Linked DNA regions of Homo sapiens. The protein of the gene in region 4 interacts with the protein of the main gene of each other region in a biochemical or structural test. Each region holds a gene or a part of one and is shown on either strand. Other genes may lie near its edges.

Evidence for each region.
Region 1: of the proteins of WWP1 (region 4) and KLF5, one has a biochemical effect on the other in vitro, tested with the Homo sapiens proteins (4 studies listed by BioGRID, with this or other methods).
Region 2: of the proteins of WWP1 (region 4) and WBP2, one has a biochemical effect on the other in vitro, tested with the Homo sapiens proteins (2 studies listed by BioGRID, with this or other methods).
Region 3: the proteins of WWP1 (region 4) and NOTCH1 form a complex in vitro, tested with the Homo sapiens proteins (one study listed by BioGRID).

What each region holds. Positions count from the first base shown.
Region 1 is NC_000013.11:73,061,995-73,069,016, reverse strand, and holds part of KLF5 (Krueppel-like factor 5), read right to left. Parts: coding exon 6,283-7,022; intron 5,194-6,282; coding exon 5,134-5,193; intron 1-5,133. UniProt on the Homo sapiens protein: Transcription factor that binds to GC box promoter elements. Activates the transcription of these genes.
Region 2 is NC_000017.11:75,852,326-75,859,673, forward strand, and holds the start of WBP2 (WW domain-binding protein 2), read right to left. Parts: upstream 3,011-7,348; 5' UTR 2,973-3,010; coding exon 2,914-2,972; intron 2,820-2,913; exon of another isoform or gene 2,799-2,819; intron 1-2,798. UniProt on the Homo sapiens protein: Acts as a transcriptional coactivator of estrogen and progesterone receptors (ESR1 and PGR) upon hormone activation. In presence of estrogen, binds to ESR1-responsive promoters. Synergizes with YAP1 to enhance PGR activity.
Region 3 is NC_000009.12:136,543,049-136,550,917, forward strand, and holds the start of NOTCH1 (neurogenic locus notch homolog protein 1 preproprotein), read right to left. Parts: upstream 3,001-7,869; 5' UTR 2,739-3,000; coding exon 2,678-2,738; intron 1,055-2,677; coding exon 976-1,054; intron 1-975. UniProt on the Homo sapiens protein: Functions as a receptor for membrane-bound ligands Jagged-1 (JAG1), Jagged-2 (JAG2) and Delta-1 (DLL1) to regulate cell-fate determination.
Region 4 is NC_000008.11:86,429,545-86,436,566, reverse strand, and holds part of WWP1 (NEDD4-like E3 ubiquitin-protein ligase WWP1), read right to left. Parts: intron 5,871-7,022; coding exon 5,816-5,870; intron 5,162-5,815; coding exon 5,077-5,161; intron 4,953-5,076; coding exon 4,824-4,952; intron 1,116-4,823; coding exon 1,040-1,115; coding exon of another isoform or gene 1,031-1,039; exon of another isoform or gene 1,029-1,030; intron 935-1,028; coding exon 863-934; intron 1-862. UniProt on the Homo sapiens protein: E3 ubiquitin-protein ligase which accepts ubiquitin from an E2 ubiquitin-conjugating enzyme in the form of a thioester and then directly transfers the ubiquitin to targeted substrates.

The DNA.
Region 1 (7,022 bases), on a different chromosome or scaffold from region 4:
TCAAGCAATTCTCCTGCATCAGGCTCCCAAGTAGCTGGGACTATAGGCATGTGCCACCATGCCCAGCTAATTTTTGTATTTTTAGTAGAGACAGGGTTTCACTATGTTGGCCAGGCTGGTCTCGAACCCCTGAACTCAGGTGATCCACCTGCCTCCGCCTCCCAAAGAGCTGGGATTACAGGCGTGAGCCGCCACCGCGCCCAGCCAAATATTATCGAGATTTTAAAACCAAAAGCTATGTTTAATATATTCCATGAAAAATGACTTTGGAGCAAAGACCTAGAAAGGAATTTTTTTTTTTTTTTTTTTTTTTGAGATGGAGTCTCACTCTGTTGCCCAGGCTGGAGTGCAGTGGCACGATCTCAGCTCACTGCAACCTCCGCCTCGTGGGTTCAAACGAGTCTCTTGCCTCAGCCTCCTGAGTAACTGGGACTACAGGCATGTGCCACCACGCCTGACTAATTTTTGTATTTTTAGTGGAGATGGGGTTTTGCCTTGTTGGCCAGGCTGGTCTCGAACCCCTAAACTCAGGTGATCCACCTGCTTCGGCCTCCCAAGTGCCAGAATTACAGGTGTGGGCCACTGTGCCAGGCCCTAGAAAAGAAATTCATATCTAAGGATCTTTTAGTACCCAAACTGAAAGTCAATATATTCAGCAGCAAATCTCAAGTACAGATTATACGAAGTATAACTAATAACATCTTACTACACATGTCAGTAGGCAATAAAGTCTTCTGCAAAAGACAGTAAGGCAGAAAATGGGAATGTAACCCCTTTACAAACTAGGCTTCCACTAAAAATCTTTCCAGGACTTAATGTGGAAATCTTTCCTAAACAGGGAATCTTGAACACAGTGCTTTAAGAGTCCATTTTGTGAGTCTGGCGTGGTGGCTCACGCCTGTAATCCCAGCACTTTGGGAGGCTGGGGCGGGTGGATCATCTGAGGTCAGGAGTTCGAGACCAGCCTGGCCAACATGGTGAAACCCCGTCTCCACTAAAAATACAAAAATTAGCCGGGCGTGGTGGCAGGCGCCTGTAATCCCAGCTACTTGAGAGGCTGAGGCAGGAGAATCGCTTGAACCTGGGAGGTGGAGGTTGCAGTGAGCCGAGATCGCACCATTGCACTCCAGCCTGGGGACGAAAGCGAGACTTCATCTCAAAAAAAAAAAAAAAAGAAGAGTGAATTTTGTGTTCCTATGTTATTTGTACAATGTTTCCATTTTCTCCTACGGGCGTGTTTCAAATTGTCCTTTTCCATTGTCAATCTCCAGTAAGCCACTCTGGGATCACTTAGTACACACAGAGTCCAATGCATGGAGTCTGGGTCTGAGGAATACTTGAGCCAAGTGTGTGTTGTTCAAAGACTTTCTTTGTACAAATGCTAATTTCTTGCCCTGTTCCAGATAGCTGAAACGGGGGAAAAAAAAGAAAGAAAAAATCTAGAAACGTTACCGTACCCTGATTTCCCAACAGCTTTTCCATATTCTCTAAGGTTAAGTGTATATCCACGCACATGAAGGGAACCGCTAGGACTTCAAACATCTGTGTTGAGTTCATGGTTTACTTTTTCAGAACTTTTTCTCTGGTAAGAACTTTTTAAATTTCTACAAATTTTTGTTTGAAGATACAGTCAATATATTTTCCTACTGATTTCAACTTGCCTCAAACCTTTGCAAACTTAGACATTATTTTAAATGTTCATTATATTAAAGAAAAAAGTAAGGTATGTGAGCATATAATACTGGTTGCAATAGACAGTTTATCAGTCATGTTGATTTATAAAGACAAAACAGTATACTTGGGAGCAACTTTAGAGTAATAGCAATGTGTTCCGCCCCTTGTAGACATCATGAGGCATACAAATTTCAGTACAATGTTCATTTAAATGCTGTTAAAAGTACAAATATTTTGAATTGGAAATACACCACTCATTGACATTGTTACCTAGAAGCAGCCATAATTATTTCTCACCAAAGGCATGATAAATGTATACACACACATACTACAAATAATACATGCGAACATCCACATCTATAAGGGGTGCTTCTACAGGCCTTATGCTATACTATGTATGTACAGATATAAATAAAATATAATTATTCCCTAGAATAGAAGCAAATGTTTCCAGTATTGTCTAATCACACAAAGAAGACAGAACTTTGTATTATTTATATGCGATTTCCTGATAAAGAAATCAAAGTATATGAACTTAGAAGACTTGAATGCTATACTTCTGGTTTAAGAAACTGATATATCATCTACTCTGTCATCTCAGATTACTTAAAAAGTTCTATTTTGTTAAGACTATTATTTGCTTAGGTTCAATTTGCAACCCAAGTTAAAGAAGCACTTCCAATCTAAAAATCCAGAAGAAGTAATTAAACTCAGATGTAGGCTGTTTTCATTGCCTAAATTATTTTTAAAACATAAGGTAACTTGACATTTTAAAGCAATTACAATTATTTTCCAAAGAAATGCTAGGGTGCTTCACATTCTGCCTGTAAAACGACAATCATTTAAAGAGTATTTTATGTCATCAACTGTTGTGTGGTTTTTAAAGTCCTCTGATCAACGGTCCGAGAGGGAGGAGGAGGACAGAAAGAAAACCAAAAAAAGCTATTACATAAGAGAAGTAATTTAGAAAAACTGTCCTAACTGTTCTACCTGGGCCTTAAAGGGAAAGAAAAAAAAAAAACACCTTTGCTGGCTTCAGATACATTCATTTAAAAACAACAGGCGGGCAGGGTGGGGAGGATGCAATGAGAGAACAGGTAATTTTAAAAGGCATTGTCTAGAAATGAGAAATGAGGAGAAAACAACCTCAATGCTCTATGATTACCCAAGAACAGGTTTAGCCAGATGAACAAGTCTGCTACAAACCCTCCCCAAGGCATTTGAAAGACTATCAAACAAAACTTTATTAAACTGGATTACATGTTCTCATTCATTAGATGTTGAAGGCCACAATGTTTATGGTCAGGTGAAAAAGCTGATGCAAGGGACCCAAACCAGGTCTCGGTCTTCTTTTCAGTCTGTTTTTATTAGTACAAGCATTGTTAAGACAACCCACGATTAAATGTATTTGCCGGCAGGTCAAGTTCCTGAATCGCAGGTATAAGCATTCAGGGCACTAAACCCTGACGGGGTGAAAGGCTATTCAGATATGGGTTTGACTACATCCCTGCAATAAGTAGTTGATTACATCGTTATATGCAATTGTGCTCTTTTATTAGGAGACTTTAAACCCAGGAAAATGTGTTCCCTCCTATCTCTCAAGGACTTCCAAAAGTGAAAAAAACAATAGTTCAAATGTCTTTATATTTCCATTTATATTCTGTAAAAGGACATTTTGGTATTTCTACATGGAATATTTTCCTGGCACTTGTCATTTGTATTTTGAAAACTTTAAGTTGGAGTTTTTATAACATGCTTAATTCATTTGTGTTTAACTATAAAAATTTCTACCTTGGGCTGCCTATGAAGGATCCTTCCTCTTATGTAATCAGTTTGTCTCCATGCAAAAACCTCAGGCCAAAACAGCCCGCTCATTTCATAGATAAATACATAAGATGCCTTCTCCTTAAAAGCAGTTTCTCAAAAAGCCCTGGAATCTACAACATTGTCATCGGATTTTAGTAAGTAGTGTTTATCACTGGGATATCAAGCAATGCTTCCTAACATGCATACAAAATGTCTGCAACCATATTCCTCTTAGGGCTCTACCTCAGCACTGACCTTTGTTCAAAGGCTTTTACTTTTTAATGCAGCAGTTAGAGATAACTACTTCATTTATCAAAACTCAATTTCCATAGTAACATCTAGCCTCGGGAGATTCAAGTCCTCACACTAATCCAACAACCCATTCAAAGGAACTGTTGAATACTTTGGTTTCCATAGCAATGATGGAATAATACATTTTGCTAGGTCATTGCTTTTATTAGCAAACTTATTCTCTGAACTTTAGGTAAGGCTGTATTTATTGAGGGAAAAAAACACAATCACTTTATATAAGTTCTTTTCTTTAGGGCTGCTCTTTTAAGAAAATCGCAAATAGTAACCATCTATATATTTGACAATATTTGGAGTATTTGGGGGGCCTTTAAAGTATGCCACCTGGTTTCATCTTAAAATGGCTTCTGATATAATTTTAAAGTTTAAAAGCTCTTAAAAGTGCTGGTCGGGCGCGGTGGCTCACGCCTGTAATCCCAGCACTTTGGGAGGCCGAGGCAGGTGGATAAAGATGTCAGGAGTTGGAGACCAGCCTGGCCAACATGGTGAAACCCCATCTCTACTAGAGATACAAAAATCAACTGGGCATGGTGGTGGGGGCCTGTAATCCCAGCTACTCGGGAGGCTGAAGCAGGAGAATCGCTTGAACCTGGGAGGCAGAGGTTGCAGTGAACTGAGATCACACCACTGCACTACAGCCTGGCAACAGAGCAAGACTCCATCTCAAAAAAAGTGACTGCTATAGATTGAACAAAGCAAATACAAAAGTAGAGGAGCTAAACTTAAAAGCATATGTAAACAAGAATGAATGTAAGCTAGAATAAAGATCAAGTCTCTCACACATACCAAGTTTAGGCTGGGGCTTGTAACCCATTTCTGACCACCTGATTTTAACACTGCAATTTCAGCACTACCTTTCATCAAGCACAGAAAACATACTAAACACAGATATTTTAACCTAGAGGTGAAACTAACGTTTTCACCAATTATGCAGTACACTCCAAATGGGAAAGTTTTTAAGAGTTTAAAATGGCTTTCTCAGAGCAAAATTATTTGCTATGGAAGAAAATGAGTTTTGTTTTGTTTTTTTTCCTTCAAAACACTGCCAGTATAAGTTTTAAAATCCATTAGTAAACATCGCTGTTTACATTTTTGGGTAATCAACTCTGAGCGGTGACAGGGCAAGAAGGCCTTAGTGAGGGAACATCACCGGCCTTCCTGGAACCAGATTTCTCATGGAACTGAATTCTGAACCAAGCCTGTGCTGAAAAGGTAGGCTATTTAAAAAAAAAAAAAAAAACAAAGTTGACAGGAGAAGAGATCAAACACGTGTTAGCTTTTAAAAGGATGAATACCACTTACACTATTTACACAACTCACAGAATTAACAAGAAAATTACATACCAGTGTGAGTCCTCAGGTGAGCTTTTAAATGAGAAGACTTGGTATAAACTTTTGTGCAACCTAAAATAAAGGAGAACAGCATGTCATTTTGGAGATCCTTTTGAAATCTTTACATTTGATGATTCAGTGTTTAAAATCTGGCTTTAAAGAAGAAATCTCTCATGCTAGATGAGATTATTTGAAGCTTCAGTTTTAAAAGTTTTAAAGAGCCCTCCCCCATTACCTTATTAAAGGCATGAAGTGATTTGTTTTATGTATCACTTTAACAGGAAAGAATACAGATAATCAAGCCAAACTACAAATGGAAAATTTGTGTTTATATTCCAGTAGGTGCTGTACTTCCGTATTAAGAGCTGCTATATGTTTTTTTAAAAATTTTAATGGCTCTAGAGCTGACAGTACTAAGCCATTATCCAAGATGACTGTAATTTTCTGTACTCCCACATTTCTTCTTTTTTCATTTAGCACGTCATGCCATATCATGTATCAGAGTCAATAAATTTTGCCATGTATTAATCATAAACTAGCTTTCCCAGTAACTTGTAAATATATTCCATGTATTGTCTTCAACTTATACTTTGGGCCATGTATGTCATTCAAAACTGAGCATATGCTCACGTGCCATCAAAACCATTCTTAAATCTGTCTTGTAGACAGTCTTGTACCTAACATCAAGCTAGCTGCCTGCAACCTCCACTTCACCACCAAACCTTATTTTCCCCCACCCTACTTTAATCTCTTTCTGGGGCACTTAATTTAGAATTAAAAACTGCAATTTATTCAATTGCCATTTTAAAGTAACTCTGGCCTAACTCGAAATAATATGTATTAGAAATTCAAATCTGTTTTAATATTAAAGAAAAAAAAATCCAAGGGAACTTTTTCCAGAATATTCTAGCCAAGTTTTTGATGCATAACATAAGCAACAGACAACTAACTGGTTTACATACCAAAGTTAAAGCACAGAGATAGGATAGAGAAAAAAAAAAAGGTAATTTTTTTTTTTTTTACTGTCAAGTACAACTTTCCTATTTAAAGCCATGAGGTTGAAAAGGGCACGCGCGTGCACACACGCACACGCGCGCGCACACAGACACACACACACACACACTACATCTATTGATGCTTCAACCAGGTAAGAGCACATACCAGGGTAATCGCAGTAGTGGATGCGTCGTTTCTCCAAATCGGGGTTACTCCTTCTATTGTATCTGACAGGTTGGATGTTTTGTGAGTTAACTGGCAGGGTGGTGGGTAAATTTGGATTGTGAATTGCCAGTTTAGAAGCAATTGTAGCAGCATAGGATGGAGGTGGGGTTAAATTCTGGAGCATCTCTGCTTGTCTATCTGGACTTCCAGGCTCTGAGCTTGGTGGTGACGGGGGAAAGTAAGTGGCCTGTTGTGGAAGAAACTGACTTGGCATTGTGTATGTGCAAGGGGGCATGCCCTGGAATTGTTTCACTGCAGTCTGCGGAACAGCAGAGGTGTGTGTGTTAAGGCCTGCCATGGCAGCTGACATAGAAACATTAAGAGTGTCCATTGCTGCTGTCTGATTTGTAGAACTGGGCATATCTAGATCCGGTGTATTCAGTAGCTGGTACAGGTGGCCCTGCTGGGTAGGGACAGAAAGATGAAGATCTGGTGTAGGAAGTTCTTGTTTGATGAAAATATTGTTCACCTCTGGAGCTGCGGTCTGGTGTGAGCTGAATATACTGGTGAACTCAGGGAGGGCCTGGGTCGGGGCCGGAGGAGGGGCAGTCGTTTCACTCTGGTGGCTGAAAATGGCAACAGGTTCTGTCTTGATGTGTGTTACGCACGGTCTCTGGGATTTGTAGAGGCCAGTTCTCAGGTGAGTGATGTCAGGGAGGAAGACGTTCATGTTGATACTG
Region 2 (7,348 bases), on a different chromosome or scaffold from region 4:
GTAAAATTTCCCAAACCCCGCTTATAAAGCCCCCAAATGATCAACATGGTAGCAGAGCTACAGGGCTCTGAAGAGGCCATCATCCCTCAAGCAAGTTAGATAATCTGGCTTAACTCTTCTATTTTCTTTATTTTTTTTTTTTTTTTTTGAGACGGAGTCTCACTCTGTCACCCAGGCTGGCGTGCAGTGGCGTGATCTCGGCTCACTGCAAGCTCCGCCTCCTGGGTTCATGCCATTCTCCTGCCTCAGTCTCCCAAGTAGCTGGGACTACAGGCGCCCGCCACCACGACTGGCTAATTTTTTGTATTTTTAGTAGAGACGGGGTTTCACCGTGTTAGCCAGGATGGTCTCGATCTCCTGACTTCGTGATCCACCTGCCTCGGCCTCCCAAAGTGCAGGGATTACAGGCGTGAGCCACTGCGCCCGGCCAACTCTTCTATTTTCTTTTAAGTCCTTGTGATAGATGTTCTGTTTTTGCTGGTTTGTTTTTCAAGCCTAAAATATAAACATGTCTAAGAGATGACTGTACAGATCACAATAGGACGTCCTTCGGGGTTCTTTTAAACCTGGGTTCTTAAGCGGGGTTTGCAGGAAAGTCCATGAAGCCCTTGAGATGATCACGTATGTCATATGTGCATTTTTCTGGGAGGAGAGTCCACAGCTTTCATCATTGTCAAAGGAGTTCACGACTTGAAGAGTAACGTTCACTATTTTAATTATAATTTTTTATTTTTTTGAGACGGAGTTTCACTCTTGTTGCCCAGGCTGCAGTGCAACATAGCGTGATCTCAGCTCACTGCAACCTCCACCTCCTGCGTTCAAGCGATTCTCCTGTCTCAGCCTTCCAAGTAGCTGGGATTACAGGCATGCGCCACCACGCCTGGCTAATTTTTTGTGTTTAGTAGAGACGAGGTTTTACCATGTTGGTCAGGCGGGTTTCAAACTCCTGACCTCAAGTGATCCACCCACCTCAGCCTCCCAAAGTGCTGGGATTACAGGCGTGAGCCACCATGCCCAGCCTAATTATCAAATTTTGGACACTGGACTTAACACTTCAATTGTTATAGATACAACTTTTTCAGACAGCAGGCTGAAGCACTTTCTAAAACAGCAGGCTGAAGGCACACCTTACTTAGCAGGACTGAGCCCTAAGCCAGGTAGAAGGCCGAGCAGGATAGATACATTCTTGTCTCAGAAAGTTCCACAGAGACAGAAAGAAAAACAGTCCCCAGAGATGTTGCCAAATGGCACGAAAAGCTGGCCAGGCCTGGGAACTGACTCACACACAGAGATGCAACAAAACAGTGTGAGGTGTCTCTGATTACATGATAAAAAGGTTCACACGGTTCTGTTTGTCTTCTGCCTCCCCCCATATATCACAACTTTCTCTGACTGGGGAAGGGTAAGTGGGAAACAACTGGTATAAGCAAAGGAAAATGGCTGGGCGCGGTGGCTCACTCCTGTAATCCCAATACTTTGGGAGGCCGAGGAGGGTGGATCACGAGGTCAGGAGTTCGAGACCAGCCTGCCCAACATGGTGAAACCCTATGTCTACTAAAAATACAAAAAATTAGCTGGGTGTAGTGGCGGGTGCCTGTAATGCCAACTACTGGGGAGGCTGAGGCAGGATAATCGCTTGAACCCAGGAGGCGGAGGTTGCAGTGAGCTGAGATCGTGCCACTGCACTCCAGCCTGGGCGACAGAGCAAGCCTCCATCTAAAAAAAAAAAAAAAAAAAAAAAAAAAAGAGAAGAGAAGTACTGCTCAGAGAAAAGAAGGAATTACCAGCAACAGGCTGGGCCCATGAAACTCTGAGCGGGTAAGATAGAGGGAAAGTGAGCATGCTGGGTCACTCTAGGCATTTTCCTCTGACTCATCAAACATTCCCAAGTCACAGGGCAGCTGGATGCTGGCCTTAGCTGGGTACAGGGCTCTGACTCCACGATGTCTCCTTTGGGGACTCAGGTGCCTCCTAAGCTCCTTCTGCCTTCAAGAGGCAATTCAGGGTCGGCATAGTTCAACCCAGGGCTGGCTGGTCTGATTTTCAATACCCAAGGAACAAAAGGAGACAGAGGCCATTTAAGGCTTCTCTTGGCAGAGACTGGAGGAGAGACAGGATGCAATGAGCAAGGGGTGGGGAGGATGGAGTGGAAAGAACCTTGAATTAGGAGAGCTCTGCCTTCCGAGGTGACCCAAACCAACAGGCATTCAAGAGAGAGGCAAGGGAATGACTACGGACCCACACAGTGCCAGGAACTGTTAGACACCTGACAAACGTCATCTGTTTAATTTCACCTCTGGGACCTCAGTTTTTTACCGGGAACCTGAACAGTTCTGGAACATACTGGAAGCCTGTATGCTGGTGGTTAATCCTATTAACTTTGGAGTCAAGACTCCTTTCCTGGAATTACCACCTCTGTTACTTACACAGTTGCGATCTCGGGCAAGTTACTTAACCTTTCTGCCCTCCACTTTCCCTACCTGTGAAATGTGGACAGTAGTAGATTATACTGCACAGAATTTATTAAATAAGGTAGAAAAGGCGCAGAGCCTGACACGTAGTAACGTTGTAGACATCCAATAAGTGACAATTATTTTTGTTTGGGGCTCCTCCCAGCTACTGAAATCACAAGTCTGGGAAGGGGTTCAAGAATCACCCCTAGGCCCCACCGGGGGCCCCATACCAGGTCCCCATGCAGACGTCCCACCCCCGCCTCCCAGCTGATCACAACCTCCCGGGCTCTCCCCCACGGCCCACCCACCTTCCTCCAACCCCGCCCCCAGCCGTTCCCCACCAACCTCACTCCATCAGTGCTCCCTCTTCAGGGGCTTATTCCCCACCACCCACCACCCACCGCCCACTTCCTCGACACCCGAACTTTGGTCCTCCAGGATCCTTCCGCAGTGTTTTCACCTCTCGGTGTTATTGACGATCACTCCGCCGCCCTCCGAGTGATTCTTGTTGAGCGCCATAGTCTCTCCAACAGGGGTCCCGAGACTCAAAACGCAATGAGCTTGCGCCCCTCTTCGCCCCGCCCCTAGTGGCGTCTTCTTATTAGAGTCAGCCAATCAAAGCTCGAGTGCGGAGGCTGGCCCAAACACCTGACCCGAACGTCACGTGGTAATAGTTTACTCCCTCCTTCCAGTTCCTCCTGCGCAACAAACAAGATGAAGACTACAATTCCCAGCAGGCAACGCCCCCGCAGCCTCGGCCTGTCCCTATGCTGGAGGAAGGATGCATTCTGGAACTTGTAGTCTCCTGGATCATAGGCCTGAATTGGTTCCACATTTTGCGTAACCAATCGGCTTGTGCCATCCCCACCCCGCCTCTTCAGCCGGACGGAAATAAACAGTTCCGCTCCTGGCAGGGGCGCGATCTTGGGGACTCCGGCAGCGCGTTAAGGGAAGTCCTGCTGGTCGAATGCGACCTGGACATGGCGTGGGAGCGCCGAGCTGTCCCCTTGTGGATGGGGAGCTTTCGTTCACTCAGCAGACGTTTATGGGGCGCATGCGTGACTCTGGGGCGTTTAGCTGAGCCGGAGGCCCCGGCTCTTGGGGACGCGGTGGGCTGGCGGCGTCGGATCACCCCGCCATCCATCTCACCACTCCCAGCGCTGAGCCCGGGGGGCGGGGAGAGTCCCTCATGGGAAGGGGAGGCCGTGTGCCCCGCCTGGCTCCCACCACGTTCGCAGGCCGGCCGGGCGCCCCTCGCAGCCCCCTCTCCGGCCTCGCGGTGGCGCCGCTCCCCCCTTAGCGCCCAGCGGGGTCCCGGCCGGAAGACTGAAGGCTGAGTGGGACTGGGCACGGCGCGAAACCGGCATCCTGATAACTAGGATTTACAGAATAAGGCTGACTCCTGTCAGCTCGTGACCCAGCCCTGGGCGTCCTCCACGGGGCAGCTGTCATTCCCTAACCGCCCCCCACCAAACCCCTGCACCTCCGAGCTGAATCCGTGAGGCGGAGAGAGGGGGCTGCACTTCCCACGTGGTAGTTCCGGTACTCGTTAATGTTAAGGAATTAGAGTTTGCTTTTCAGTAGACAGCTGCTTTCCTGACTGTGGTGGCCAACCTCTAGATCCACCTGCTTGACTTCGCTTTCCAGGGAGGTCTCCTATGTGAAGAAACAAAGCTGCCTCACTAGAAAAGATCAGGAAACAGCAGCGTTCTGTGAGGTCCTGTGCAATACCAGGTTGGACCTTGCGGGACAAGTACAGTGGGTTAAGGATAGTCATAATGAAATCTGCCCCAATGGTTAGATGTATTTTGGCGCCTGCAATCTCTGCAGTCTTTAAAAAGAATTAAGTCAGACTATGTGCTGATATGGGAAGATCATCAAGGGTTATTAAGCACAGAATGCTGTATACATATAGTTGTATTTGTATAAAAAATAGGATCTAGATAGAAAATTTTTGCAAAGATCCATCAGAAAATGTCTGTGGCATTTTTGAGACATGGGTCTAGGAATTTGGGGTGGATTGGTGACTCGGTATGTCAGTATGCATTGTACTCTTTGGTACTGTTTAATTTTTTTTTCCTATGTGCGTTTAAAATATAAATTTAGGCCGGGCGCGTGGCTCACGCCTGTAATCCCAGCACTCTGGGAGGCCGAGGCGGGCGGATCACGAGGTCAGGAGATCGAGACCATCCTGGCTAACAGAGTGAAACCCCTTATTAAAAATACAAAAAAAAAAAAAAAATTAGCCGGACGTGGTGGCGGGCGGCTGTAGTCCCAGCTACTTGGGAGGCTGAGGCAGGAGAATGGCGTGAACCCGGGAGGCAGAGCTTGCAGTGATCTGAGATTGCGCCACTGCACTCCAGCCTGGGTGACAGAGTGAGACTCCATCTCAAAATAAAATAAAATAAAAATAAATAAATAATATGTAAATTTAAAAAAGAAAAGCAGGCCGGGGTTTGTGGCTCACGCCAAAGGCGTGAGCCAAATTCCAGCACTTTGGGAGGCCAAGGCAGGTGGATCACCTGAGGTCAGGAGTTCAAGACCAGCCTGGCCAACATGGTGAAACTCCATCTCTACTAAAAATACAAAAATTAGCCGGGCATGGTGGCGGGCACCTGTAATCCCAGCTACTCGGGAGGCTGAGGCAGGAGAATCGCTTGAACCTGGGAGGCAGATGTTACAGTGAGCCAAGATCATGCCACTGCATTCCAGCCTAGGCGACAGAGCAAGACTCCATCTCAGAAAAAAGAAAAAGAAAAGCAAAATCCAGGCCTGGTGCCGTGCCTGTAATCCCAGCACTTTGGGAGGCCAAGGTGGGTGGATCACTTGAGGCCAGGAGTTTGAGACCAGCCTGGACTACATGGCAAAATCCCATCTCTATAAAAATACAAAAATTAGGCCGGGCGCGGTGGCTCACACCTGTAATCCCAGCACTTTGGGAGGCCAAGGTCGGCGGATTACCTGAGGTCAGGAGTTCAAGACCAGCTGGCTAACATGGAGAAACCCCGTTTCTACTAAAAAATACCAAAAACTAGCCGGGTGTGGTGTTGTGCGCCTGTAAGCGCCTGTAATCCGCGCGCCTGTAATCCCAACTACTCGGGAGGCTGCGGCAGGAGAATCCCTTGAACCTGGGAGGTGGAGGTTGCAGTGAGCCGAGATCACGCCATTGCACTCCAGCTTGGGCAACAAGAGCAAAACTCCATCCCAAAAAAAAAAAAAAAAACGCAAAAATACAAAAATTAGTTGTGCATGGTGGCGTGGTTCCTGTAATCCCAGCTAATAGGGAGGCTGAGACATGAGAATTGTTTGAACCTGAGAGGCGAAGGTTTCAGTGAGCCAAGATCGTCCCAGTGCACTCCAGCCTGGGCAACAAAGGAAGATTCTGTCTCAAAGAAAAGAAAAAGAAAAAAAGGAAAATCCCCCCAGCAAAGAGCAGGCAGCATTGGCTGCTCTAAGGACCATAAATGGGAAGATGGGGACAACCTGCCCACCCCTCTCCCACCCCTTTGCCAAATACGTTGGAGACAGGAGCAAGTTCAGGTTTTGCCAGGCCTTGAAGCTTATACAATTTTGGAGGCTGTCTTGGTTGTTTATGTTTTTGTTTTTTGAGACAGGGTCTCATTCTGTCACCCAGGTGCGATCATAGCTCACTGCTTCCTTGGAACTCCTGGACTCAAGTGATCTGGAGGCTCTTTTTAAGAAATAAAATACACAGGCCGGGCGCAGTGGCTCATGCCTGTAATCCCAGCACTTTGGGAGGCTGAGGAAGGTGGATCACCTGAGGTCAGGAATTTGAGACCAGCCTGGCCAACGTGGTGAAACCCCGTCTTTACTAAAAATACAAAAAATTAGCTGGGTGTGGTAGCGGTCACCTGTAATCCCAGCTACTCGGGAGGCTGAGGCAGGAGAATCGCTTGAACCCTGGAGACGGAGGTTGCAGTGAGCTGAGATCAAGCCACTGCACTCCAGCCTGGGCAACGAGAGGAAAGCTCTAACTCAAAAAAAAAAAACAACCCCACAATTATTCATTCACAATACTGTGGCTACAGTGAGGCCTCCTGACAGGAGGGGAAATGACAAGAAGAGGAAGTTGCAGTGCAGAGATAACAAGCTTGACCAGCTCCGGCTACAATGTCCAGAATTTCTAAGTTTTACAAAAACATATGACCATGTGAACACACTTCCTGGGCGGCTCCCATGACTTTGGGGCTGGAACGTACCAGAACTCAAAACTCAAACCGAAGACTTCAACAATGGTTTATTGCTGAACCAGGTGAGCAGCAGGAGGCTCCCCTGGGCCCAGGTCTCAGTACTCAGACCTCTCCTCTGGCCTCATACTCCTGTCTGCCTGTCTCCAGATCTCTTTTTCACTGCAGTATGATGCTCATATTCTCCACACTGGAGCACATCTTAGCGGTGCGCTAAGGAGGAGTGCAGGTTGGCCTCAGATACCAGCAGGCAAGGTCTGGGGCAGCTGAGCCCCTGAACTGGTCACCTGTTTTTTCTGTTTATAATTTTATTTATTATTTATGTATTTATTTTTGATACAGGGTCTTGCCCGTCTCCTGGGGTGGAGTGCATTGACATGATCTCTGCTCACTGCAGCCTCCGCCTCCCGGGTTCAAGCAATTCTCATGCCTCAGCCTCCAGAGTAGCTGGGACTACAGAATCGTGCCACCACGCCCAGCTAATCTTTGTATTTTTAGTAGAGATGGGGTTTCACCATGTTGGCCAAGCTGGTCTCAAATTCCTGACCTCAAGTCATCCGCCCACCTAACACTCCCGAAAGTGTTAGGATTACAGGTATGAGCCACCGCCCCCGCCTGGTCGCCTCTTGACTCCCAATAAGATGAATCTGTTTGCCCCAGTGAGCCAAATAAATACCATTTTCACTG
Region 3 (7,869 bases), on a different chromosome or scaffold from region 4:
GCAGATGCCAGGACAGAAACCAGACTCAATAATTACCCCACACCCCACGCCAAAACATGAGTTCCACCTTCTCTTCCCCAGCCCCAGCCTGAGGCCGGGAAGAGGGAGCTGGGGCAAACAGAGAGCCCAAAGGCGGGTCCGATTTTGAAGAGTCAATTTCCTTTGAAGAGGCATCACCCACCCGGAGGTGGCATCACCTGCCCAGGAAGTATCACCTGTGCCTAGAGGAGGCATCACCCGCCTAGAGGAGGTATCACCACCCAGAGGAGGCATCACCCACCTAGAGGAGGTATCACCACCCAGAGGAGGCATCACCCACCCAGGAGGTGGCATCACCCGTGCCCAGAGGAGGCATCACGCACCCAGAGGAGGCATCACCCGCCCAGGAGGTGGCATCACCTGTGCCCAGAGGAGGCATTGCCGCCAGCCCAGGAGGCATCACGCACCCAGAGGAGGCATCACCCGCCCAGGAGGTGGCATCACCTGTGCCAGAGGAGGCATCACTACCAGCCCAAGAGGCATCACCACCCACCTAGGAGGCATCACCCCCGAGAGGAGGCATCACCTGTGCCCAGGAGGCATCACCCGCCCAGAGGAGGCGCCCCAAGTTGGCAGGGTGGTGGGGGCTGGGCCTCTCAGTAAATGGTCCAGAGCTTCCCCTGGCAGATCAACTGTTTCTTGGGGACTTAAAGAAGAATTGGGGTACTGGGACTCCCACTTAGTGACCCCGGAGCCTGAGGTGGCCCACGGAGGAGTGCCCAAGCCCTCAGCAGCCAGACCAGCTCCACACGCAGCATAATTGCTGGTGATTAAGTAATTGCCAGACTTTGTCCAATAAAAGTCAGCACGTGACCGTGCCCAGACTCTGGGCCATCTCCAGAAGACAATGGCCTAGTGTTCTGTCCCCTGCGCGGCTGCAGAAGGCAGGGGCTCTGCCCTCGACAAAGCAACAGGTCCCGCAGGGGTGGTACTCACACGCAGGCCTCCGTGCCATTGGCCGCTTCACACTTCCCGCCATTCAGGCAGGTCTCACCGGGCTGGGAGCATCGCGGGCCTAGGCAGGGGCAGGAGAAGAGAGGTCAGTCTCACCCGCACCACCACCACCGAAGGCCCTGGTTACCCTGGGGGCGGGGACCTGCACCCAGCCAAGGGGCATCGTCCGCCCCCTACCCCGGACGCACTCTGCTCAGTATCATGGGTTGCTGGGGCACGGGTCCGCAGGAAGCCCCTCCATGAAACCAAAGGGGCGTCAACATTCTGCCCAGAGTTCTGTAGTCAGAAATGGGGGGAAGGGGAGCAGCAGGGAACACGTCCTGCTTGAAGCAGGGTGGGGTGGCCTGATGTGCCGCCTGGACGCAGTGGGGGAAAAGCAGAGACAAAGTGGGCTACTCTCCAAAGCGTTGCCCCCCACCCTGGAGGCTCACTGAGGAGTCTGGCAGGGCAGGGCCCCCCATCCAGCCGCCGAGATTGCCTCTGTTCAAACCCGTTCTGCAAGGGGGCAGAGCTGGACGGGGGGAGGGGGGGTGGCCACACTCAGCTCCCGCCCGTGGGAAAATGCGACAGCTGCTCGCCCGCTACCCCGCCCGCCAACAAAGCGCCGGCCTCCGCCTCAGAATCAGAGCGGCCCATTGTGGAGTCGGGGCCGCCTCCAGGGGCACCGGGACAGCACCCTGGGGACGCGGCCCCGCCTCCGCCGACACCCAATACCTGCCTCCGCGGGCGCGCATCTCCAGGGCAGCCCCCATACACCCACAGGAGGGGGATGAAGGTCCCCCATTCGGAAGGAATTCGACCCCATCTCGAGAAGGGATCAATTACTCAAGCCCCTCCCTCCCCATCTTACCGGGGCTGAGAAACGGGGGAGGGGGGTGTGACACAGAGCCGCACTTTCTGGAAGAGGACAGATAATTCTCGCCTCCAACTCTCGGAGAAAGAGTGGATTAATCACTCGATTCCCCAGAGACCCCGCTCGCTGTGCGGCGGGGAGAAATGTAAGAGCCCCCCACCCGCGTCCCGCTCTCCGCCCCCAAGCTTTCCAAACTTCAACTCCGCAAAGCAAAAGGAAAGTTCAGTCCCCCCGGGCGCGGCGGCTTCTTACGCAACCCCTCCCCCAAACTGAGAGCCGGGCTGGGGGGCACCGGCGGGCGGGGCGACCGGGAGCCCGGGGACCCAGCCCGGCCGCGCGGGTCAGTGAAGGCGAACGCGGCGCCGCAGAGCCCACACTCCGCGCCCCAACATCCGCCCCGGCGTGGGCCAGAGGCGAAGAAGAAAGAAGATAAATGGCCCGGAGAAGCAACAGGAAACCAAAACCGACTCTATTCAAATCGAAAAATAGTAGGCAGCCCGCCCGCCCGGCCGACCGGCGGCAAGCCCCACGCGCGGCGGGTGAAGGGCGGGCCCGGAGTAGGGCCTCCGGGGCCCCAGCACCCCACACCGGCCTCCTAACTCGGCTCCAGGCACGGGCGGCGCGAGTCCGCCTCCACGGGGGGATCGAGGGGGAAGGTCGGTCCTCCCTGATCCCGGGACTCCAGAACCCCACGCCCCGGGCCGCCCGCTTTTCCCTCTCCATGCTGGCCTCCCCGCCGCCCGCTCCCAGCCGTGGGGCGCGCGCGCCGGGCGCCGCCAAAGTTTCCAAAGGGCGCGGAAAGTGGGGGCTCGCGGGTGGGTGGGCGCCTACCTCGTGCGGCGAGCGCGGGCAGCAGCGCCAGGCAGAGCAGGGGCGCCAGGAGCGGCGGCATGCCTCCCCACCGGCTGCCCTCTGCGCCCGGGCGGCGGCCTCCTGCGCTGGCCGGCGGGGCTGGGACGCACACGCGCGGCGTACGGTCCCGGGGCGGCGGCGGACGGTCCCGCCCTCTCTTCCCCGGCTGGCTGGCGGCGCTGTGCTCTCGCAGGCCCCCGGGCCCGGCTCCGCGCCCGGCTCGTTCCTTCGCTGCGCTCGCGCCCGCGCCCGCGCCCCGCGCCCCGCGCCCTTGCGCTCCCTCCCGCGGCCGAGGCACTAGTGAGGCTCAGAGTCGAGGTGCGCTCCGCCCCCGCCGGCCCCGCCCCGCCCGGCCCCACCCCCGCCGGTCCCCCCGCCCCCTCCGCGGCCACCTCCTCCCGCACGCCCCGTCCGCCTTTGCGCCTCCCCGAGCTGAGCCGCGCGTCCCGAGCCCAGCCTCTCCGGGGAGGAGGGACCCGGCGGCGCGGCGTGGGTCGGGAGCGGGCGCCTGGGACTACTTCTCGTTTGAAAGTTTTCAGAGGCCAAAAGTTTGAGCCGGGGCTGCGGAAGGATCCGGCTCTGGCGGTTGCCGCGCTCGGCGACAACTGGCGACTGAAATTTGCATGTGAATAAGCGGAGGAGCCCGGGGCGGAATGGGGAGGGCGAGGCCGCGGACAGCCGTGTGCACCGTGCGCTGGGCCGGGCGGGGAGCAGCTGAGGCCACGTTGGGGGACCCCGGGCCCGGGGCAGGGCTCTGGGAGAGTGGCCTAGCCGTGTGTGCGCCCCTAGCCCAGCGGCTTCACTCCCTCCCGAGGGCCCCGTGGCCGCGGCTTTAGGCGTCCAGAGGATCGATCGCCGCCAGACATCCCTGGCCGTGATTGCCCGAGCACTTGACCGCGAGGGATGGGGGCGCCGCGGCCTCTGGGCAGGGGACTCCGGGCGCCCCGAGGGAGCAGCCGGGACCAGTGCCTCGCGGACGGATTGTGCCCCGCTCCCCCAAGGGGGACCCGCGTCGACACGCTCCTCGGTCACCGTCCTCCTCCTGCCCGGGCGCCGCCTGCCTAAGGTGGCCCCAGAAAGCACAAACGGGTCGGGCGGATCTGCCGCTGGCGCCGGCGCAGCCCTTCCCACGTGCTCCTTCCGGCTGATTTATTTCTCCACCACGATGCCAGGCACGGGCACCCTGTGCCAAGCCTGGTTAAGCGCCAGGAGTCCAAAATGCCTGCCATAGTCCCTGCGCAAAGTTCACGGCCTCGTGCCAGGGACAGACAGCGCCCCCTCCCCACCCCAACACAGGGTGGTGAGTGCGATGGCAGAAGGCGCGTGTCCCGGCGCCCCTCCTGGAGTAGGAGGGCTAAGCCTGCCCTGCGGGGAGACCGAAAGGCTGGGAGGGACCTAGGACTGTGGGGGCCTGGGGGGAGGGCTGCAGAAACCCCAGAGCATGGTGGCAGAGGCAGGCACAGAAAGCAGGACAAATCTCACACCTGACCCCAGCAAGCCTTTCCTGGCACACCTCTTGCCAAATGCTGAGCACTCTGGAAACAGCCAGTGCAGGCGGCCTGTCCCGCCCCTGTAGCTGCTGCTGGGAGCCTCCCTCGCCTGCGTCCTCCCAGAATCTGGCCTCACTTCTGCAGGCCTGGGGTAACATCTTGGGGTCAGCGCCCCAGGAGAGGAGGCGCCTGGAGGCAGCAGAGATGTTTATGTAACAGCAGCCAGGCAGCCTGGAGGAGCAGATTTTCCATAGAAGGAAGCGCGGGGCTGTGCAGCTCCCAGGCTGAGGACTCTGCCCACCACGACGTCCTCTGCTCCTGGTGGGTGGGGGTGGGGTGGGGCATAGGGAGGCCCGAAGGCCTCAGGCCTGGTGCTGATCGGGTGCGGGTGCGACTGCCTGTGTGCCTCCATTGGCATCTCTGCCTGTGGGCCCCAGGCCAGAAGTAATGGCCCATGTAGCCCAGGCCCGGGGGCCAGTCCTCAGCATTTTGCGGAGGGGCGGCCTGGGAGGGGAGGAGGGGATCCCTGGATAGGGGGTCTCCCCTGGTCTGCCCCAGCTGTGCCGACAGCACCTCCACCTTGGGCCTCCATCCTCTACCAGCAGAGAAGAGAGTGGCCCATTCGGTGTCCACCCGTCAGGCCACCCAGCAGCCAGGCACGCTCATAAGCCCGCGTTACGGATGGTGCGGCCGGGTGCACAGGCCCGAGGGAAGCACAGGCCTCGGCCTCCCAGCTCCCAACCCCTGCACCACCCACAGCCGGGAGTACCCCATGGACAGCTGTGGCCGAGGAGAAGCCAGGGATGAGGGGGATGGGCCTCACCTCCCCACCAGCCTGGGAAGGGGGTAGGCCCCTGGCAAGTAGGTGAGAAGCTTTTTCATTCACAAGTTGTCCGGGCTCCCCATTCCTCTTTGTCAGGCCAGCGGGTGTGGGCAGTCGGGGGAGGCTGGGGTCCTGACACAACAGGAGTACATCTGCTGGCCTAGGGCCTGGAGACCTTCTCCTACAGGTCGGGAGGCAGCCCTGGGCAGCGGGCATTGCGGGGACTAAAGAGAAACAAGAGCAGGTTGTGTGCAGGGCACCCCAGCCACTCCAGAAACCCAATGGGAGGGTGGGGGCTAGGACCCCAAGAAGCTGAATTGGGGTGCAGTGCCGCCAGGCCTCCCCTGTAGGAGTCACTTTGGGCTTCCTGTCCCAACTTGTGGTGGGAGCTGGGGCAAGGTTCCAGGGGTACCCCGAATGAATGGGGCTGTTCCCAAGCTGGCCAGGGAGCCTGGAAGCAGATGAGATGGGGCCGCAGAGCCTGGTTTGCGGAGGGGAGAGGCAGACGTGTCCTGCAGCCCTCTCTTCTTCAGAGGCCCCCTGCGGGTGCTGAGGGGAGAGTGGCTTAGGCGTTGCACCCCAGGAGACTGAACTGGGTCAGTTCCCCCTTGTTTGCTGCCAGAGAAATGGGGGTACCATTGTCAGGGTGAGCTAAGGAGGCCCTGCTGACATTGGCCCAACCAGGCCCCTCCTTTGCGGCTGCTGTGGGGACTTTCGAGAGCAGAGCACACCCCTAAGTGCGTGGAGAGGTAAGCACAGCTGGTGAGCACACGGGGACAGCGACGGAGCTCATGGAGACCCAGGTGACCTTAAAACACCCCAGGGCCGGCTCCGGCCCCAGAGAGATGTGGTCCGAGTAGAGGGGGGTCAGCAGTGACCTGGTGGGTGGGTGTATTTGAGGGGTGCCTGTGTTGAAAGCTCTGCAGTAGATTCTAAGGAGCAGCCAGGGCTGAGACTCCCGGTGCTGAGCCCAAGGCCCCTTTCCTTCCTGCAGGAGTTCATCTTGGCTCTTGCAGCCCCCATGACCCTGTGGCGCTGGGGGGCGGCTAGCATGATGCTCCCCATTTTTCAGGAGGGAAGCTGAGGCTCAGAGACATCATGAGGATGCCAGCTCAAGGCCCAGCCAGGCCTTGGTCCTCAGCTGCTGTCATCCAGTAGGGTAAGTGGGACCCCCAGGAGGTGTTGGGGGACACTCCTCCCCTCCCCCACACTCACAGTCTGTTCACCGCCCAAGGCAGCAGGCTGGACTCGGTGCAGGGACCATGGCTTGGCGTGGCCAGGTTGGAGTGGCCCCTGGGACTGAAAGCAGGGGGCGTGGGGGCTCTGAGGCGGGGCCGAGTGCGGGGACGTCCTGTGGCGGGTACCCTGCTGGGTCCTGGGTGGGGGCCACCACCAGGCAGCTGTGGGAACATTCCAGACCACCTAGGAGTAGGGCCCCTTCACCGTTTGAAGCTGACTGTAAAAAACATCTGACCTGTGTGCAAAGCTCAAGCCCAGAGGCCTCCAGGGTGTCCAGCCTCCAGGGTGCCTCCTACGCAGCCTCCACGTCCCCATCCACTGCAGCCCCTGACCATCGGGCACACCGTGGGGCCTTCGCTGGCCGCCGGGCCTCAGGTTCTGCTGCACCAAGTGATTTTTAAAGCCCCATCTGCCTTTCTCCACTTATAAAGAACTTGGGACATTTCCTCGAGGTTGGGCATTTTTCCAGATGTGGTTTCAGTGTCTCGCTTGCTACCTGGTCCCCTGTGCTGGGCGGTCCGCTGTGACGCACCTGGCAGTCCTTGCTCTAGGATGGATTCGGGCCGGCCCTTGTTCTGAGAACAGAGAACGGCCCTTGTTCTGAGGAGGCTGGGGTCTGGAATCTGCTTCCTGGTCCCCTGCTGTGTGCAGACAGCCACCGTCACCCAGGCCCAGGGGTGCCTGCAGGTGCTGGGCATCTCACCCTGGCCCCCACAGGGGCTCCCCATGCCCTGCACCCCTCGGTCTGTGCCGGGGACTTCCCTGCTCTGCTGTTGCAGGCCTCGTCCTTTGCCGAGGGGGTCTCTTTCCCACGTGTCCCTGAGACTCCTCAGCCATCCCAGAGGCTCTCGGCCGTCTGAGCACCCCTGACCATGAAGCCTTCCTGGCCCACTCTCTGTGTGTGAGGCAGAGCCCATCCCTACCATTCCGACCCACACCAGAGGCTCCGGAAGGTTTGCTGACTGACCTGTGACTGCAAGAAGCTGAAGGAATGTGGGCGCAGACCCGGCAGGGGCTTTTCTTGGTGCAAAGTCAACTGGCTGTCCATGCAAGCCTGCTGCTGTGGCCAGCCCTCCCGCCAGGCGCCTGGTACCCTCCCTGGACCCAGTTGCCAGGACAGTGATCCCCAGCTGTGGCCAGGACTCTGCCCGGGGCCCTGTCTACTCAGTGTCTCCAGTGGTCCCCATGCAGAAACTGCCCCCCTTGCTGCCCATGAGGCATGGGATAGGGTCAGCATCCGAGAGGCAGGCCCTGCTGTTCCCCTCTGCACAGAGGCTGGGGGAGTGAGTTGCCCGGGCAAGTCCCCGGGCAGGCACTGGGCCTCCTGAGCAGGTGAGCTGAGAAGGCCCCAGCTGGTGTAGGCCTCGAGAGCTGCAGGACTGGCCATGGGGCAGACCTGGCATTGTCATTCTAGAGCTGGGCCTGGGGGGTGGCTGGTGCAGTGCAGATCTCAGGTGGAGGCCACCTGCCCGTCCTTTCCACGTGGCTCAGGGCTCAGACCCACCTGCCTGTCCCTGGAAGCCCCTAGACTGCTCAGAGCACAGACCTCAGTGGGAAAGACAGTAGATAGGCCTGGGTATGGTCTCCCAGCCCTGAGAAGTGGGGAGCCCACTCAGACC
Region 4 (7,022 bases):
TAAACCAATAGTCCCTGCTCTCATGGAGCTCACATTCTAGTAAGGAAGACAAAATACACTATGTTGGGTGGTTATGAAAAAGAATAAAGCACCATAAATGGCTGGAATGTGACTGTGAGGGAGAAGAGAAGGACTGCCATCTTAAAATAGTAGGCTCAGAGAAGGTCTCTCTGAGATCACATTTAAACAGAAACATAAAGGTGAAAATAAAGTTATTAAAGGAATTCTCAAATGGAATACAGTATCTACCAATTTAATTTTAATTTGATAGCATTATCAAAACTTTGAGGTAATAAATTCTTAGCCAAGTATTGTGTCAAAACAAGAATCAACTTGTTCCAAAAGCTGTTTAAGCTTTATTTTAGTAAATACACATCTAAATTCATGATATGTCTCTCAGTCTCAGTACCTTTACCTATAACATGGAGATACAATAAGTGCTATCTCAAAGGGATGCTGTGAGGACGAATGAAATAAAATGAGAAATGTAAGATGCCGGTGTTTTGCAAATGATAATCACTCAGTATATGGGAAGGTTTAGTGTAACTATGATTAAAATGGGCACTCAGGCCAGATGCAGTGGCTCAAGCCTGTAATCCCAGCATTTTACGAGGCCGAGGTGGGTAGATCGTTCGAGCCCAGAGGTTGAGACCAACCTGGGCAACATGGCGAAATTCCATCTCTATTTAAGAAAACAGAACAAAACAAAACAAAACAAAGGCACTCAACAAGTGGTGGTGGCAGTCATTATTATTATAGCTGTGTTCTGGGTGGTTTAAAAATCTCTAAAACCCTGACTTTCTTTAGATGCACAGAATACAATGAGACAAATGGTGTTTTATTCTGCTAAAATCCTCCTTACCTGTTGGAAGGAATCTTCAAACAATGTCTGCCGGGACACATTGATCTTTACATGACTAGGTAGTGCATTAGACTAAAAACAAAAATAATATCATAATATCATCTGAGTTATAGTATATGTATTGTATAAAGAGAAGACTAAATTATTGAGTATAAGATTTATTTACCACTATAGTACCTGGCACAAATAACGGAAGTGAGCAAGCTTCCACCTAAAGCCGCGTTCATAAGCAATTTGTGGACCACCTTTAGTTCTAAAGAAAAACAAAAATAAACCAAATTAACTCATAATAAAGTTGAATATTTAGTATTCAGTATAAAATCAGAGTGTACTAAAGTCCAACAAAATACCACAGGAAGATTTCTGCTGGGAGAGAAGGGTATACATACATGGTGGGCCAAAAGAAGCTCAAGTAATGGGGACTATTACAGCAACAGGACACACATATACACAAAGAAGGACATTGTATTTATGGCTGGATCTTTTGTTAGTGAGTTAAATGAAATATCAAAGTCTACTACAGACTATTTCAAAGAAAATCTTCGATAATCCTTAAATCTAAGGAGGACAGAGGCTCCAGACAGAAGAGACGTGGAAGGAAATTCTACCACATCCTAAGCCTAACCTAAAACCCAAACAAATATTCCTGGAGATAATAAGCAAAGCAAAATCAAATTCCTAGAAACAACATTGTCATCCAGATCACACGGTTCACGTGGTCAGTGAGAGAAAAGGCAGAGTTGGTGGCACGGCACCTAGGAATACAGGTTTTACAATATGGTTTGACTCACAGTGACAGAGCCTGGATCTCTTGCCTATTGATTGAGGGCCTGACAGGCACAAAGAACTTTCATAATGTTAAGGAACACTTTGGAACAGATGAAAAATGTTCTCTTGTGTTGTCAGGTTCAAGTGAATTCACTTACTCAAAAAGCATTTACTGAATGCATAGCTGGTACCTGGCTTTCTTCTAGACAGTGACAGCATTACTTATTAATAGGTAAAAATGCCTGTTTTGTGGAGCTTATATACTAGTGAAGGAGATAAGACAAAAAAATATAATAAATAAGTAAAGTACAAATGTCTTATCACTCCTGACCTAGAACAATAAAACAATAAAAAAGGCATTGTTAAAAGGACAAAGTATAAGGAGTGATATGAGAAGCATTTTGTGATTTTCAAAAGGGTAAAAGGAGTAGAGCTCACAGACAAAGTGACATTTGAGCAAAAACATGAAGGAGAGGGCAAAAGCCATATGGAGTTTCGGGAAAAGAGCATACCAGGCAGACGGAATAAAGGCTAAGACCCAAGGTGGAAGCTGAAGGTGTTGAAGGCACAGCTAGCGTCCAATGAAGCTAGAACACGGTGAATGAGGAGGAGCGAAAACCAAGAGGAGGTTGAAGAGATAAGAGGGGTCAGATCCTGTAAGGCCATTTAGGCTGTTGTAAAGTGTGCTTTTTACTCTTATTGAGATGGAAACCACTGAAGGGTTTTGTGCAAATAAATGACTTTTAATTAAATTTTGTTTTGGAAATTCAGTCTCTGTGCTGTATGGAGAGTAACAACATTGTACAAGGTGTGGGAAGAAAGCAGAGAGAGGACTCTGCTACCAAGCCAGGCAACAGATAATGGTAGCTTGGACCAAAATGGTGGCAATGGGGGTGGTGAGGCATAGCTGGATTCTAGATATGTTTTGAAGTTGAGGTAACTAGAATTCTTGATGGACTGTTTGTAAGGTAGGAGAGATAGAGGAGTTGTGGATGATTCTACATTTTTTTTTTTTCCTAAGATGGAGTTTCGCTCTTGTTGCCTAGGCTGGAGTGCAATGGTGCAATCTCGGCTCACTGCAACCTCTGCCTCCTGGGTTCAAGCGATTCTCCTGCCTCAGCCTCCTGAGTAGCTGGGATTACAGGCACACGCCATCACGCCCAGCTAATTTTACCATGTTGGCCAGGCTGGTCTCGAACTCCTGACCTCAGGTGATCTGCCCGCCTCGGCCTCCCAAACTGCTGGGATTATAGGCGTGAGCCACCATAACAAGGTGATTTCAAAATTTTTGACCCAAGCACCTGCTAGAGTGGAGTTATCAACTGTGACAGGGAATATCACAGGTAGAGCTGGGTTTTTGTTGTTGTTGTTATAATTTTTTTTTTTTTAGAGACTAGCTCTTGCTATGTTGCCCAGGCTGGTCTCAAACTCCTGGGCTCAAGTGATCTACCCGCCTCAACCTCCCAGAGTGCTGGGATTATAGGTGTGTGCCACCATGCCTGGCCAGAGAGCAGGTTTTACAGGACCTACCAAGAAGGAGTTACAAGTGGAGATGTCAATAAGCAGCTGAATATAGAAAGCAAAATTTCAAGTGAGAAGTCTGAGCTAAATTTGTGAGTCATTAGCAGGCACATGTTTTAAAAGCATAATACTGAGTAAGATGCATCAAGAGAATGAATGTAGTTAACAAAAAAAAAAAAAAAAAAAGAGGCTTAGGAAAAAAAGGAGGACTCGACAAAATAAAGATAGAAGAACAGAAACGCAGAGGGAAATCAAGAAAGTATGGCTCACAGCACTACTTTTGCCAGGAGAGAGAAATGTATTGTGTCAAATGTTCCTGGTAAGTCAAATCAGGCAGGACTGCAAACCAACGCCTGGATTAACAATGTGAAGATCATTGGTGCCCTTGCAAATTCAGTGTCAGGGGAACTTCCTTGGAGTTGGTTTAAAGGAGAAACTATGAACAGCAATACAGAGACAACCATGCAAGTAGCTTTCCTGTAAAGGGGAGCAATAAAAATGAACTGTGGGCTGGGTGTGATGGCTCACGCCTGTAATCCCAGCACTTTGGGAGGCCAAAGCAGGTGGATCGCCTGAGGTCAGGAGTCCGAGACCAGCCTGGCCAACATGGCGAAACCCCATCTCTACTGAAAATACAAAAATTAGCTGGGTGTGGTGGCGGGTGCCTGTAATCCCAGCTACTCAGGGGGCTGAGGCAGGAGAATCGCTTGAACCCAGGAGGTGGAGGTTGCAGTGAGCTGACATCGCATCATTGCACTCCAGCCTGGGCAACAGGAGCGAAAGTCCGTCTCAAAAAAAAAACAAAAAAATGAACTGCGATTGAACACATTGGTAAAGGGAAGAGTTGTAATTTCTTTTTTTTTTTGCTTTTTTTTTATATCTAGGAGAAATAACAGCTGATAAGAATAATTTTGTAGAGAAATAAAACCTGATAATGCAACACAAAGGTGATAACTGTTGGAGCAATTAAGTAGAAAAGTGGGGGTAGGAATCGAATGTACCAGCAGAGGGACGAGACTTTGATAATAACAATGACAGTTCATCTATAGGAACAGGAGGGAGGAGAGATGGTAGGAGACGGACAGATATGGTGGTACAACTTTGCAAAAGACCTTTTAGGATTGCTTCTATTTTCTTAGTTATGCAAAGACATGACACCTTAGAGTAAGAATGAAGGAGAGATCTGTCAACCGCTTAATTAAGGTATCTTTAAATCTGGAAAAATCATTTCACTGACCATCTCATTGCAGCAGTGTGATGTGGCAGTTAAGAGCACAGAGTCTAGACAGAGACTGACTGTCATCGTTAGAAACCAGCTCCATTACTTGCCTTATAACTTTGCACAGTTAGTTATGCTCCCTATACCTCTCCTCACTTGGTAAAGGGAAAAATAATAGTATCTACCTCAAGGGGTTATTGGAAGATAAAATGAGTTAATACCTATGAAGTACTTAGAACAATCCTCGGCACACAGTAATCACTACATAAATAGTTTACATGCTGCAAATCCATTGTCAAATGAGAGCAAAGACAGCTATACTAAGGTTTCACTTGTGTAGGTTTTCTTGAACCAAAAAGTAAAATGTTTTGCTAAACTTGAGGATAAATTAGAGACTAAATCTCATGTGCTCACTAAGCAATATTTAAAGGAGAACTTCAGGTTTTCACTCACACAGATGACTTCCCATTGCGAGGATCTTTGAATGTTGTTGTTCTTGTGTTATGATCAACAAAGTACCTTACACCTTCACGAGTATATCTAATTTCCCAGCCTTCTGGCAGGGGTTCTTCATTCTGTAAGCTAAAAGATAAAGTTAAAATCACAAGATGAACCTTTTCTAGGTACTAAAAATATCTCATTCAAGGTTGGTTGGTTCTACCTACTGATATATGCAAGACGACTTAAGGCTGCTGTATATACATACCCTTGAGTTCTTGGATCTTCCCACTGGGTTGTTTTTGTGTTATGATTCACAAAGTAAACCCTGTCTGTTGAATCCACTCTTTTTTCTGAAATATAAAGTGAGTATAATATTTAATAACTATTTAGGATCTATATATAAAATAAGGAACACATATAATTATATATAATATATATTATATATATAAAAACATATCAGGGATATATGTATCCCTTATATATTATAGAATATATTATATAGAATATAATATATATTATAGAGAATATAACATATATTATATTATAGAGAATATAATATATATTATATTATAGATAATTATGTAGAATATAATATATATTCTATAATATATAATTCTTTAATATATAATCTATTCTATATATTCTGTATATTATATATATAATACATATATATATCCCTTATAATATACATATATATATCCCTTATAATATATACATATATAATATACATATATATCCCTTATAATATATAATATATTTAATATGGATTATATATTCTATATAGTATACAGAATATATAACATTCTACAGAATATATAATATATAGAATATATAATCCATATTAAATATATTATATATTATAAGGGATATATATATGTTAAGGGACATATATAAGGGAGATATATATATATAAAATAAGGAACATATATATATATATATATATATATATATATATATGGAGAGATATATATCTCCCTTATAGATCATTAGCAAAAACAGCTTACCCCAGCCTGGTGGCAAAGGTCCATAAGGGTCATTTTCTGCAGCTAACATTGAAGCCTGATTGGAGAAAAGATTAGGGAGAGAAATAAAATAACAGTGTTTTAATATGAAAGTAGAAATAAGCCAAGCATGTGGCAGAATCACATTTTATAATAATTTTCTAAAAATATGATAAGGGGTTGGGCGCAGTGGCTCATGCCTGTAATCTCAGCACCTTGGGAGGGCAAGGTGGGAGGATTACTTAAGCCCAGGAGTTCAAGACCAGCCTGGAAGATCCTGTCTCTATAAAAAAAAATTTTTTTTTAATTAGCCAGATGTGTTGGCACATGCCTAAAGTCCCAGCTACTTGGAAGGCTGAAGTGGGAGGATCACTTGAGCCCAGGAGGTGGAGGCTACAGTGAACTGTGATCACACTACTACTGCACTCCAGCCTGCACAACAGAGCGAGAAGCTGTCTCAAAAATATATCTATATTATTATATAGACAGATAGATAGGTCCACATTATAAGGAAATATAGCAATTTCAAGACACAAAGTTCTTTGTTTTTTGAGACAGGATCTTCCTGCTCTATTACCCAGACTGGGGTGCAGTGGCGTGATCTCAGCTCACAGCAGCCTCTGCTTCCCGGGCTCAAGCAATCCTCCCACCTCAGCAACAACCGAGTAGCTAGGACTACAGATATGCGCCACCACACCCGGCTAATATTTGTATTTTTTGTAGAGACAAGGTTTTGCCATGTTTCTGAGGCTGGTCTCGAACTCCTAGGCTCAAGCGATCCACCCGCCTCAGCCTCCCACAGTGCTGGGATTACAGGTGTAAGCCACCGCTCCCAGCCAAGACACTAAGTTCATAAAATGTCACGAAGAGGAGACTATCAACTATCAAATTAATTATTAGTTTTTCGAAAATGATTTAAAAATAATACACTGGCATCAATACTTTACTCTCCCAGTCCTTCCATACTAATCTATAGAGGGAAGATGAAATGGGAGAAGAACATATAGGAAATTATGATGTTTAAATGAGGCAATATTATTTGTTTAAAAATAGAACAGTTATCACAATTTTCTTTAAAACAAATGCCCACTAATAAAACTAACACTCAACTCCAGTATCATTTATAGAAATAAACTTTTAATTAGTATCTTTTATATTTTCATACATACATAAAAACACATTTTTATGTATGCCTCCATTCTTATAACCT